Homo sapiens: one gene and its partner. The protein of the gene in region 1 interacts with the protein of each later gene in a biochemical or structural test. Each region holds a gene or a part of one and is shown on either strand. Other genes may lie near its edges. The genes, in order: MPHOSPH6 and EXOSC7.

What was found.
Region 2: the proteins of MPHOSPH6 (region 1) and EXOSC7 form a complex in vitro, tested with the Homo sapiens proteins (one study listed by BioGRID).

What each region holds. Positions count from the first base shown.
Region 1 is NC_000016.10:82,147,624-82,153,350, forward strand, and holds the end of MPHOSPH6 (M-phase phosphoprotein 6), read right to left. Parts: intron 3,892-5,727; coding exon 3,801-3,891; intron 1,781-3,800; coding exon 1,686-1,780; intron 1,241-1,685; coding exon 1,108-1,240; 3' UTR 539-1,107; downstream 1-538. UniProt on the Homo sapiens protein: RNA-binding protein that associates with the RNA exosome complex. Involved in the 3'-processing of the 7S pre-RNA to the mature 5.8S rRNA and play a role in recruiting the RNA exosome complex to pre-rRNA; this function may include C1D.
Region 2 is NC_000003.12:44,979,212-44,986,375, forward strand, and holds part of EXOSC7 (exosome complex component RRP42), read left to right. Parts: intron 1-7,164. UniProt on the Homo sapiens protein: Non-catalytic component of the RNA exosome complex which has 3'->5' exoribonuclease activity and participates in a multitude of cellular RNA processing and degradation events.

The DNA of each region.
Region 1 (5,727 bases):
ACTCGTTACTTCCCAGAGTTGGGAGGTGCATCATTCTCATACTCACAGTGAAAAAAAAAAAAAAGGCCAGATTAACTTCAAAGTCCTATCTTTTCTCATAACTCACCAGAGAACTGAGGTCACAGAGCAATAAAACCTTCCTTACAGAGATTTGAGGAGAGAGGAGACATGTACCTCATTCACTTCCTGGGAGCGAAATTAAATCAGTAGTTCTCAGAAGTCCTAGGTACTTATCTGCAGACAGAAAGACAGACACACATACACACACTTAATTCTATGTGCTTCTTTCTGTACTTAGCATTTAGAATAGAGTTCAGACTAGGAGATGGTACCATTGGTCAGTGGTAAATTCTGTTGGGTTATACCGTAAGAAACTAAAGGTTATTTTTGACCTGTAAAAGGCAATTTCTTATGGTTCAACCTAATACATCACTATATTCTGATCAATGGCTGTTTTTTAAAGTTATTATTTGGAAAAAAGTTATATTACTGAATTAGACTAAAATTGTTATTTGAAAGTACAAGAAAATATAAAAAGTATGTGAAAGTAGATTTTTATTACAGAGCAAATTTTTCTATCAATTCAATGCTTTAAATAAAACAACATAATACCATAAACTGACAATGACCTGGGAGCATGTAAATACTTAAGGCTGGAGAGGCATTTTTATTCTTGATAAATTTATATAATAAATTCTTATGACATTTGATTCCAAATTGTATGTACGAATTGGCTTGACATAATAAATATAAACATAAGGGCAATTTAAACATTGGCAGTAGTTTATGTAAGTCAATTCAAGGTCAGTGACTGGAGAACTATATTAAGAGAAACCTGAGGTAAAAAAAATCTTTAGGAAGCAGCCCTGTAACAATGTACATTTGTAGATCAGGGGCTAAAAATCCACTCTGAATGAATACCAAGAAGCAAAGGATGTACAACATCCATCACACATCTGTTTCAAAAACAGCATGTTTCTAAAATGATAATCTCTTTACAAGTAAACGTTACAGTATTAATAACTATAGAGACACCATTGGGATGAGCTCCAGATGCCCTGCTGACTTCCACCAAGCACCCCTGGGCCATCGCTTAAGGCATCCATCTTAATCCTGGGGCTTTAAGAACATCTTCTTTGCTTTAATTGGTGTTATGTCTCCATTTTCATCTTCTTCATAATTGGCATGGTCTCTCTTTCTGGCAAACTTTTTCCCAATTGTCCCCACCAAGGTCTCATATCTGTCAAGAGGACAGGCAGCACACGTTTAATTTCAAATAAAAAGGTAGGGATCAAGCCTTGTCAAGAATATCAGACCAAATATGCAATAAAAAAGATTACGAAAAAGAAAACTATCATTAAAAGAAACCATCTGATTTAACAATTTATGAACTTCTCTAAGAGTGATTAAATTCCTTGCCATTTTGGTGTTTGCATTACCCTAAATAAATAGAGATGTACATTTTAAAATACACATTTCCAGCAGCTCTGGAAATGGGCCCTCAACTGGCAGCCTGAGACAGGTCTGTGGCCCCCGTAGGCCATTAAGAGAAGGCCGATCACAGTCATCGTCCTACTGGGGGACTCCCTTGAAAGCTGCCGTGCACTGTGGGGTAAGAGGAGCATTCCTGGGAGAGCCAATGAATGCTAGGTCCAGATTAGAAGGCTGCTGCGCAGCACGGTTACCTTCTAGCCATCTCTTCATCTGACACATCAAGCTCTACTGTTTCATCTTCAACTTCTTCTGCTTTGTGCTTAGCATTCATCTGAAGCATCAATTTCTGAAAAATACACCAGTGCTGACCTTCAGGCTAGAAAACGCTTGTGAAAGGAACTGATGTCAAACTTACCTGAAGGCAGAGAAACTGAAGTCAAATAATCTAGAGAACTAGTCAAAATTGATAAGGGACTCTCTGTAATACTTGATACCACAATGGTGTAAGAGAAGTAAGCTCTGAGTCAAAAAAATAGTAAGGCAAAGCCCCACTGAATTATACTTAGGGTGAATTTAAAGTGTATTTAAGATCATAAATCTTAGTATTAGTTACTCATATTTAAAGCAGGCATACTGCTGACACATTCCGGTGAGTGGGGGAAGAAATAATAAACTTTCAGATTTTCCCTGAACTTCCCCCACCCATCTTTAAGCCATATGGAAGAAACACTAGTCGTCAGTAATAATTTTAAATGCATCTCTTGGTGGTGGTGGTGGTGAGTGGAGGAGGTGGGAGAAGTGGAAGGCTGGCCCTGTTTAATGGAGGGAATCTGCACCTCAGCCTTACCCTCCTAAACTTTAGAGTGGATAATGCATCCCATGTAACATCCATGCACCACAGGGTCTCTCCTCCAACTCTTTCACATAAACCTTTTTGTGATAATTATCCTCTGACCTTTTTTTTTTTAAATGTGTAATCTCTTCTTTTTAGCAAGAGGAGAAGGAATAAAAGATGAGAAATCAGTCTTAACTAGTTTTTCTAAGGCTTAAAAGAGTGATAATAGTTTAAAACCTTTTCCTAGGGGGAGTGTATTCAGTGTTTCAGAATCCAGTAATTAGGGCCATTTTCTAACACCCGTCCCTGCCCCCCATCAATTTCTGCGGGCAGTGGCACCTCTCCTTTCCCATTGCAGCAGACATACTTTGGAATGCTCGCCTATCCAAACCCTACTCTTTGAATACCACATCTTCATAATCCCTGCCTTTTTCTTCCCTCTTCACCCCACTGCCCAGCCCCTCTCCTTCTCAATCTGAAGCTTAATTAAAGAAAGTCAAAGCGAGACCAGCATATATTAAAAACAAACACTTCTAACATAACACCTTAATTATCACACATGCCTCCTCCCACTCCGCCAAAAAAGAAAAGGAAAACTAACCTAGAATCTTTCAATAAACTCTGGCAATTGGCTTAGTTAACTGTGGCTCCTAGAGAAGTGGTTCTTAACTGGGGATGATTTTCCCCACCAGGGAACCTGTGAAAATGTCTGGAAACATTTTTGGTTGTCACAGCTGGGTAGGAGGGTGGGGTGTGTGTGTGCTACTGATATTTAGTTGGTAGAGAACAGAGGACAGGGATGTGGTTCGTCATTCTCTTAGGAAAGCCACCACCACAAAGAATTATCTGGCCCCAAATGTTAACACTGCCAAGGGCAAGAAACACTGGCTTCAAGTAATATTTACCAAACTAAAGATTTATATCTCATGTGTCCATTTGGTTCATCAAGTACTTGATAGGATGGCTTTTAACATATGAGCCAGAGTTCTAATGAATATTTGTTAAATAAAGGTCTGCTTCTCTATCCTGGAGCAGGAAAATTCAAATGAATAGCTCAGTTATAAGGCAAATATTCATTTTTCAAACAAACTGTCGAAAGGATTCATTTAAAAATCTACTTACAAGCTTGGATTACAACAGTCCATTAAAAAGTCAAATGACATAATTCTAAAGTAACATTTTTCCGTTAGAAAAAATACATGTATAGGTGCCAGAAAATAACTTTTCATAATAGCATGATATGAATAAAATCTTGACGTTCCTGTAAAAGACACAACTTGAAATTTTAATATTTATGGTGGCTCTGTCAAGGGCTGTATACTGCTATATGAAATTATCTACTCACCTCTACCATAAAACTAGACTGCAATGCCTCCAATTTCTTTAAATAGCTATGGCGATATTTCAAGACTTGTTATTTTCTATATAATGAGTAGAAATGGTACCTGGTGGAGAAACACCTAAGCCCAATTATTAGCAGAAAAAAATTCAATTGGAAAAATTTTTAATTTGAAGCAATTATATTTAATACCTCAACCTCAGGATTAAATCCTCTGAATGACATTCTTCCATAGAGAAGATCTTCACATAGTAAGAAACTCTGCTCTTCTATTATGAAACTCCTAAATGGGAAAATAAAAATAGCATTTCTCCATATATAAAGCACAGCAAACAAAAGCCAACACTTTGAATAAAAAAAATAATCAACCTATGGTTCTCAGTAGAATGAAGTAAAAATACAGTAAGATTTCTAACTTAGGGTTAAAAATAAAATCTGATTAATTTGGTCAGCAAAGGCATTAGGAGACAAGAGCAGCAAGCTAGAGGCACAGCCTCTCTTAAACACCACATTTAATTTGCATAAATATCTACATAATATAAAGATCTAAAGTATTGACAATAAACTTGAATTTGCCAAAGTTGAAGCAAAGTTTCTTTTGTGTTTACATCCCCTCACCATATTTTTTTCCAATTCTTTTTCAGAAAGGAAATAATATGTATGTAAAAATACACATACAGTATACAGTGACACACTACTCCAAATCATTTTAATAAAGTTTCTGGCATATTTTGTCTTTCGTTCTCAGGGATTTCAAAAATTCCATTCTCTAATTATCAAAGCAGCACATTTTAAGGAACGTAATTTGGAAAGCAGAATAAAGTATGAGTTTATAAACTGCCTGTAAGCTCCTTACCAAGAGGATAAAAAGGACTGTTAGTATATTTGAATATTTCCTTCCAGTCTTTTTTGTACTTGCATTTACGTTGATTCTTGAACACAGGTCTGAGCTGTGTGGTGCACTTATACACAGATTTTTTTCAAAAAATTTCAATAGTTTTTGGGGAACAGGTGGTTTTTTGGTTACATGGATAAGTTCTTTAGTGGTGACTTCTGAGATTTTGGCCCCCACCAAATTCTTATTACAAATCCAGGAGAAGTAGTGGGAAATCAGAGGCTTGAGCAGCTTTAACAGTGTTATCAGTCAGAGCTCTTAGCTATAAACACCAAAGGCTGACCCTGGATGACTTCAGCAGAGAAGGAATTTACTGTAAGAACACTGTAGGCTCTTCATTTCCAAGGGGGACTGGTTCCAGGACCCCTTGTAGATATCAAAATCTGTGACACAAAGAGCCAGCTGTACTGGGCATCTCAGAATCACCGGGAAGGCTGAAGGGGCAGAATTGGAAGACGGGCAGAAATAACGGTCGCTAGGTGGTTGCACCAGAACCAAAATCATGCTAGAGAATGACCCTAGGAAAACCACTGTTGCTGCTGACGGGGCTGAGCACGACACCACTGATGGCATTGGGGCAGGTTGCGTTCCCTGGACCAGGATGTTTCTGTCTGCAGCAGAATTTCTCTGCTGAGTCACCACCACATGACCGTAAATCCAAGGTGACATATCTATCTCCAGCCTGGCCATAAACCCTAAAGCATGGCAGGAAAGCAAACATGTGGCTTTTAAGGCTTGTTTGCCGGAGTAGGCTCTGATTCTCATAAAGATTCCCTTATGCAACAAACACTTATTAAACCAAACTGTGTGTATTAAATCAAACTGCGGAAACAGCCACCAGTAAAAGAGCCTCAGCTGGGCACAGTGGCGGATGCCTGTAGTCCCAGTTACTCAGGTGGCTGAGGCAGGAGAACTGCTCGCATCCCAGAAGTGGAAGTTGCAATGAGTCAAGATTGTGCCACTGCACTCCAGCCTGGGTGACAGTGTCAAACACTCACCTCCAAAAAAAAAGAAAAAAAAGGAGCCTCTGCTCTCCTGGAGGTTACAGTCTATAGAAAGAGGGGCCAAATAATGAATGAAACATGAAACATTTATATCACACAATGGATGAAAATAAAGCAGGTTATTCCATCCCTAGCTGTAGGGGAGTAATTGGTATGGAACTAGCTTTCCTGCACCATAATTATATAAAACAGGACAAAATATAAAATGACCATTTTCAGA
Region 2 (7,164 bases), on another chromosome or scaffold:
ATCTCAACTGATTCAGTTCTGAAATCTCCTAAACTTTTGTTGCGTTGGTTATAGAGTGCCGGCAGTGCACCTTAAGCAGTGCCTGCCTGAACTCCTGTTGCTTGTATAGTCCTAGTCATTTTGTGTTTTACTTTTCACCTTTGGTCCAGTAACGTCCATTTCAGCTTCTGATGTCACTTTCCCTTCAGCCTTTGGTTCTTTTACTATTTCAGGGAATATTTCATCTTGTTTTGGTGATAGTTAGAAGCAGTTGAAATTAACCTCACGATGTGTTGAGGATTCAGTTGCTAGTAATGGTAACCAACACATCGGCTCAAGCAAAACAGTATGGATTACAAGGCTGCAAGTGTTTCTCCAGGAATCCTAATCTCTGCTGGTTTTTTTTTTCCCCCTCTTTGCTTTGTTTTTGTCTCCCTACAGATTGGTTTTCTATTTCTTGGGCCAGTGGTAGAAAAAATGTGGTTCCTTCCCAGTTCCTCTGTAAAAGAGACCATTCCTTCTCGTTCAGTTCTGAACTCATGTTTCCAAGAGAAAGAAACTCTAGTTCTTTTAGGGGGTTGAGGGAAAGGATGGACAGAATAATTAGGCTCAAACATGGCCACTAGAGGATGTGTCACACTTGGGAGAAGTCAGTTTGTGAGAAGGGAGGGTGGATCATTTTAGTTATTGGCAGAAAATGGAACCCTCTTCAGGTAGTTCAGGAGACTTTTATGATGGGACTCTAGAGCAGTATGGGGGGGGTTTCAGGGAACCAATAAGAGATGTTGAGGAGCCCCAAGACAACTACTGGGAGTGGCTACTGCCCCTATTCCAAAGGGGCCAGGGGAGGAAACAGTATTACCACATTTCAGTGATAGCTGGAACTGTGGAGGAAGGGCTGCCCAACATAAGTCATAGTCTTCGATAGATGCAGGCACTATCAGAAATGTGGCCACTAGATTGGGGGTGAGGGGCACCCTCTGATCTGGTATCTTCCACTGGACAAACCCAACCAGAAGCCAGCAAAGGGAGTCTAGGTGATACAATTTGAGTCAACCTGGTGAACAGATCCCCTCTCCCAGGGGAGAACAGAGAATCAAAAAGGTGGATTAAATCGGTATTTTGATAAATAATTTGATTGGTTTCTGTTAGGTTCTCTTTCAGTCTTTGAAGGCTATATCCCATTCTTATTAGGTACATATTATAATTTTTATTTCATTGAATATTTACAACAGTTCTGAAGGTAAATGTTATCTCTATAGATGAGGAACTGAGCTCGGGCAGGTTGAGTCGCTTGTCAAGGTGACACAGTAATTGAGTGGTGGCACTGGGATTTAAATCCAGACCTGTCTGATTGCAAAGCCCATACTTGACTCTGAGGCCACCTTCCTGCTGCAGTGAAAGTCATTTCTTCCATTTCCTCAGTAGGGATCCAGAGATCAAGGCAGGAGAGAATCTTTGCTTCCTCTACCTCCTTTTCTTTCCCCCTTTCTCTAAAAGCTTGTGGGGAAACTGGAAGGGAAAGAGAAAGTTCTAATTGACACCTCCCACTCCCCAGTTTTTCTAGAGCTTAAATAGTATATGGCATATACTGCTGTATTGTTTTGGTTGCATTTTTCCCACATTGAGTATAAGTTCCTTTAGAACCCTATATTGCATTTCTTTGTATAGCTTTTGTCTTACTAGTATCATAAACGATTTACTCTGCCCATACCATGCAGAACTTGGAGCAGACTTCAGAATTTTTAGAATCTAGGATTTATCCTCTTTTCTGGCTTACTGGGCTAGATGTGTGTTTTCCTCATCCATGAGAAGCCATTGCTAACCTCCCTCTTAGCCCAGGGATTCTGAAGCCTTGAAGTGCATTTTACTCACCTACAAAATACAGATTCTGAGGCTTTACCCCAACATTCTGAATCAGACTCTCTGGGGCTGGGGCCTGAGAATGGACATTATCATAAAGTGTTGGGAAATTTGGGGGCAGCCACCAGACATTGGCCCATGGGTAAGCCACTGACCAGAGATAAAGAAATCTCTGCTCTCTCCTGCTGAAGTCATATGGTTTCCTGCCTCTTTTTGAATGAGGCTTTGGAGTCAGACTGAGCAGGCACCTTCACCATTTACAATAAGTGGTTTTACTTGCATAACTGAACCTGCTTCCCTTGTGTAAAATGGGGACTTATGCACCTGGAAGTAGAATGGGGTTATGAGGAATGATGAGATAAGAGATGTCAAGCACTTGGGCTGTGGTTAACACAGAAAAAATGCTGGCTCCCTTTCAAGTTTGTTTTTCCATCAGAAGTGTGACTTTGTCTTAAACCATCCACACTAGATCCCCAGCCTTCATAGTGACCTCATTAAAGATTCAGCCTGTGGCTCCTGAGAATTAAACCTCTTTTGATTTGAAGGAATCGGGATTTTTCAATTATCTCAAGAAAAGGGATAGGCCAGGTGCAGTGGCTCACACCTGTAATCCCAGCCCTTTGGGAGGCTGAGGTGGGAGGATCACCAGAGGCCAGGAGTTGGCATCCAGTCTGGGCAACATAGCAACACCCTATCTCTAAAAAAAATTAGGTGTGTGGTGGTGTGTGCCTGTAGGCCTAGCTGCTTGGGAGGCTGAGGCCAGAGGATCGCTTGAGCCCAGGAGTTGGAGATTTCACTCCAGCCTGGGTGACAGAGAGATACTCTGTCTCTTAAAAGAAAGAAAAAGAAAAAAGAGAAGGGGGATCTGTGGCAAGAGCTGGAAAGTCCCCAGACAGCTCTGAGGTACCGCCTCTCATGGGCTCCGTGGATTATCTCATGGCCTGTGTGGCTGTCTGTCTTTATCTCTAGTGACATCTCTGCTTTTCTCTGCCAAGATTTATCCCTTCTCTGCAGCCACTTGCTGTCCAGCTTCCCTTCTTTGTAGAATCTGCCTCTGCCCAATACCTTTACTTTCGTGTGGCCTCTCTGGGCTCCTCCATATCATGACCTGTCAGCTCCTCTTTAACTCCTTTCTTCTCTCAAGTGTTTCTCAGATCAGAGACCAGATTGCAATGAGAGAATCAGTTTGGTCTGGTAGTATTTCACGCCAAAAAGAGTTGGTCACCCTTTGGATTATATGCCTTTGGTTCAGGCACCTACCCCTGGTCCTGGCTGTTGGGGATGGATGGTGACTGTTATGTGGCCTTTACAGGGCTTTAGGCACAATAAAGCTTTCCCAGGTTCAGCCTACTGAGTGCTATGGCTATGACCTGGACATTAAACTGGCCCTCATAGGTTCAGACCTGGCCATGGCAATTGACGAACCCTACCACAGGGCTCTTGGAACCCTGTGAAAGCCATTTTATTGTATGTTCTTGGCTGTTGAAGGGAGTTGTAGCCCAGCTGATGGCTTCCATTTCTTTTCTGTGGATCTTGCTTTCATCATAAGCATTGTTTAGGGGTATAGCATGGAAGAGGGAGATCAGGGCCTCAGCCTGGTTTTCAACTATGAGATTGAGCAGTCAGTATTCGGTTGCTCAGTCTGGCCATGACAGAATTGGAGCCAGCCCTCAGGACTCTTGATTTTTAGCTCTCTGCCCTTTCTGTTTACAGACCCATGGCACAGAAAGCCTTATGCCCAGACACTGCAGGATGCAGAGTTATGGAGCCATATCCTTTCAGAGGAATGCCTGGCTACTCAACAGGGTTGGAAAGTCAAACAAGGATCAACACCTACTTTTGCCTGCTGTGTGATGGGCCCGAGCCTGCAAAGCTGGACCAAATGTGGCCCCTTTCCTAAGGGCGGGGGGCAGTCACCTTCTAGTAGGGGAAGGAATTTAGTCTCACTTCTCCTTTAGGAATCTGGAGTATTAGACAAGTCAAAGCAAGTTAATGAGGGGTTAACATAACCTCAGAGGACCACTTTGAGTCTAAAGTCCTTCCAGATGTGTCAGATTGGTAGCGCCAACTTGTCAGTTTCTATTAAGAAGTAATAGGACTGGGCTTCCTGGGTGTGAGGGAAAGTAGGTCTGTGCTTAAATGTCCTTCCACTCTGTCACAAACAGGAGATTGAAACTTAGGTGCCTCCATTCTTATCTGTAACCTCTCTCAGGGTTGTTTTTGAGGATGCAGTGAGTTAATGCATGCCCCCAGAAGCAGGGGAAGGGAACTGCTTTGGGGGGACTCCTATGTGTTACACTGAAGGACTCCTTTAAATGCTTTATGACGTTTCTGTTCTCTTGTAACTCTGTAAGGTCGGGGTTATCCCTGCTTTCTAGATGAAGAAACAGGCTTAGAGCTATTTAGGTCAAGGTCACAAAACTGGCATGTGACAACAGAGATTTAAGTATAATTTGGAAGGTGGCTGTTTCCACCACACCACACCCTACTGGTAGGGTTGTTGTGATCACATGGGTAACAGCTGTGAAAGTCACCAAGAGCTTTCCTGGCATCCAGAAGCCCTTGATCTAGAGGCACATCAGTCTCCTCTGCTGAGAAGGAGGGGACACCACTCCATGCTGTTGACATCTCTTGAGTTTTAAAATGGAGCTTTTACTTCAGGGTAACTCCTATTTAAGTGTTCACACATGGATTAATTCCTTTGCTCGTGACTGCTGCAGATAAATAAAAACTGTGGTAGGGCACCAGGCCCTGAGCTAGGCCAGGCAGGTTTGGACAATTTCCTAAGCCTTTTATAAGGAAAACTGGGTTTAAAAAAAAAAGTTGCCCTGGGTACAGTGATTCATGGACTGGTTAGGTTGGTTTTTTTGGTTTGTTTTCCTCCTATCCTTTTTTTATATGGAAAAAAATTATGCATGCTTGGAAAGGAAAATTTGTAGCTTTTCATTTATCTTTTACTTATCACCTGAGCCTTTCTCCAGGAGGCAGAGAGTGAATTAAAGGCTGGAAAAGCAGTATCTGATGAGGCTCAGTTTTCTGACAGCCCACCAGCCCCTTCCTGGACCAAGTACATTTTCACTACAAAGAGGTGTGACTAATCTTTCAGAGCAAGTGATATTTTAGAAGCAGTAGTTGGACCAGATGTGGTGGCGCATGCCTGTAATCCCAGCACTTTGGGAGGCTAAGGCAGGAGGGTCACTTGAGGCCAGGAGTTTGAGACCAACTTGGGCAACATAGCAAGACCCCATCTCTACAAAAAGTAAAAAATAAAAATTAGCTGGGCATGTTGACATGTGCCTGTAGTCCTAGCTACTCAGGAGGCTGAGGTAGAAGGATTGCTTGAGCCTAGGAGTTTGAGGCTGCAGTGATCACCACTGCACTACAGCCTGGGTGACAGAGTGAGATCCTGTCTCAAAAAAAAAAAAAAAGGAAGAAGCAGCAGTAGTAAACCCTGTGACCTTGTGGCCAGCCAGTTCATCCTGTGAAGGAGGTCTCTGCTGAGTCCTTTTGTAAAGTGAAGACATCCTTTAGAATGCAGTGGACTGTGTAGCATAGCGGTTAAGAGCTCTGACTTGAGGCTTAAGTGCTACTTACTGGCTGTCTGAACTTGGGCCATTCATTTGACATCTTTTAACCTCAGTTTTCTCATTTGTAAAATGGAATGAATAACACTATCGTATAGGATTATTGAAAAGATTAAATGCATTAACTGCAGTATTCCTTGCACATTATCTGGTATATAGTAAATGCACAGTAAATAGCAGCTGCTATTATTTATTGCAAATAATTACAGCCATTTTAATTTATAGATCTGTAGAATTAGAGAATCACTTTGAGACTAATTTAATCTCCATCTTTTACAAATGAGGAAACTAATCCAGAGAGGGAAGGGGCTTGTCCTAAGTCAAGTGGCTAGTTAGTGCCAGGAGCTGGCCTGGAACCATGAGTCATGTTCCTAATGATTGTTCATACTTACACCATATTTACACCCCACAAAGAACTTCTTGTCAATAACCTTTCTGGGCTGGGTATTCACTTTCCTAGCTGGGGAGTGGGGCACATGGAGGTGGAGAGGGCTGGAGTGTTAGAGATTGAGCTAGAAAGCCTTCAGGTTCTATGGGTGAGGTTGGGAAGAGACACAGTTACATAGTTATGGGTCTTCCAGTGAAGAGGGATCACCTTCTGGAGTTCTATCCTAAAGGCTTACTCTCTTAGACTTGAAATTCTGTTGCTTTTTGAATCCATCTCCAGACTCAAGATAGGGATATTGTGTCTGGAATTGGTGGGTTCTTGGTCTCACTGATTTCAAGAATGAAGCTGCAGACCCTCGCGGTGAGTGTTACAGTTCTTAAAGGCGGCGTGTCCGGAGTTGTTCCTTCTGATGTTCAGATGTGCTCGGAGTTTCTTCCTTCTGGTGGGTTCGTGGTCTCGCTGGCTCAGGAGTGAAGCTGCAGACCTTCATGGTGAGTGTTACAGCTCTTAAGGCGGCACACCTGGAGTTGTTCATTCCTCCCGAGGTGGGTTCGTGGTCTCGCTGGCTTCAGGAGTGAAGCTGCAGACCTTCGCGGTGAGTGTTACAGCTCATAAAGGCAGTGTGGACCCAAAGAGTGAGCAGTAGCAAGATTTATTGCAAAGAGCGAAAGAACAAAGCTTCCACAGTGTGGAAGGGGACCCAAGCGGGTTGCCACTGCTGGCTCTGGCAGCTTGCTTTTATTCTCTTATCTGGCCCCACCCACATTCTGCTGATTGGTCCATTTTACAGAGAGCCGAGTGGTCTGTTAGACAGGGTGCTGATTGGTGCGTTTACAATCCCTGAGCTAGACACAAAGGTTCTCCACCTCCCCAGTAGATTAGCTAGATACAGAGTGTAGACACAAAGGTTCTCCAAGTCCCCACCAGAGTAGCTAGATACAGAGTGCTGATTGGTGTATTTACAATCTCTTAGCTAGACATAGAGGTTCTCCAAGTCCCCATCAGACTCAGGAGCCCGGCTGGCTTCAACCAGTGGATCCTGCACTGGGGCCGCAGGTGGAGCTGCCTGCCAGTCCCCTGCCATGCACCCGCATTCCTCAGCCCTTGGGTGGTCGATGGGACTGGGCGCCGTGGAGCAGGGGGCAGCGCTCCTTGGGGAGGTTGGGGCCACACAGGAGCACCCATGGGTGGGGGTGGGAGGGCGGGGAGGCTCCCGCATGGCAGGCTGCAGATCCGGAGCCCTGCCCCGTGGGAAGGCAGCTAAGGCCCAGCAAGAAATTGAGCACAGCAGCTGCTGGCCCAGGTGCTAAGCCCCTCACTGCCTGGGGCCAGCTGGCTGCTCCAGAGTAT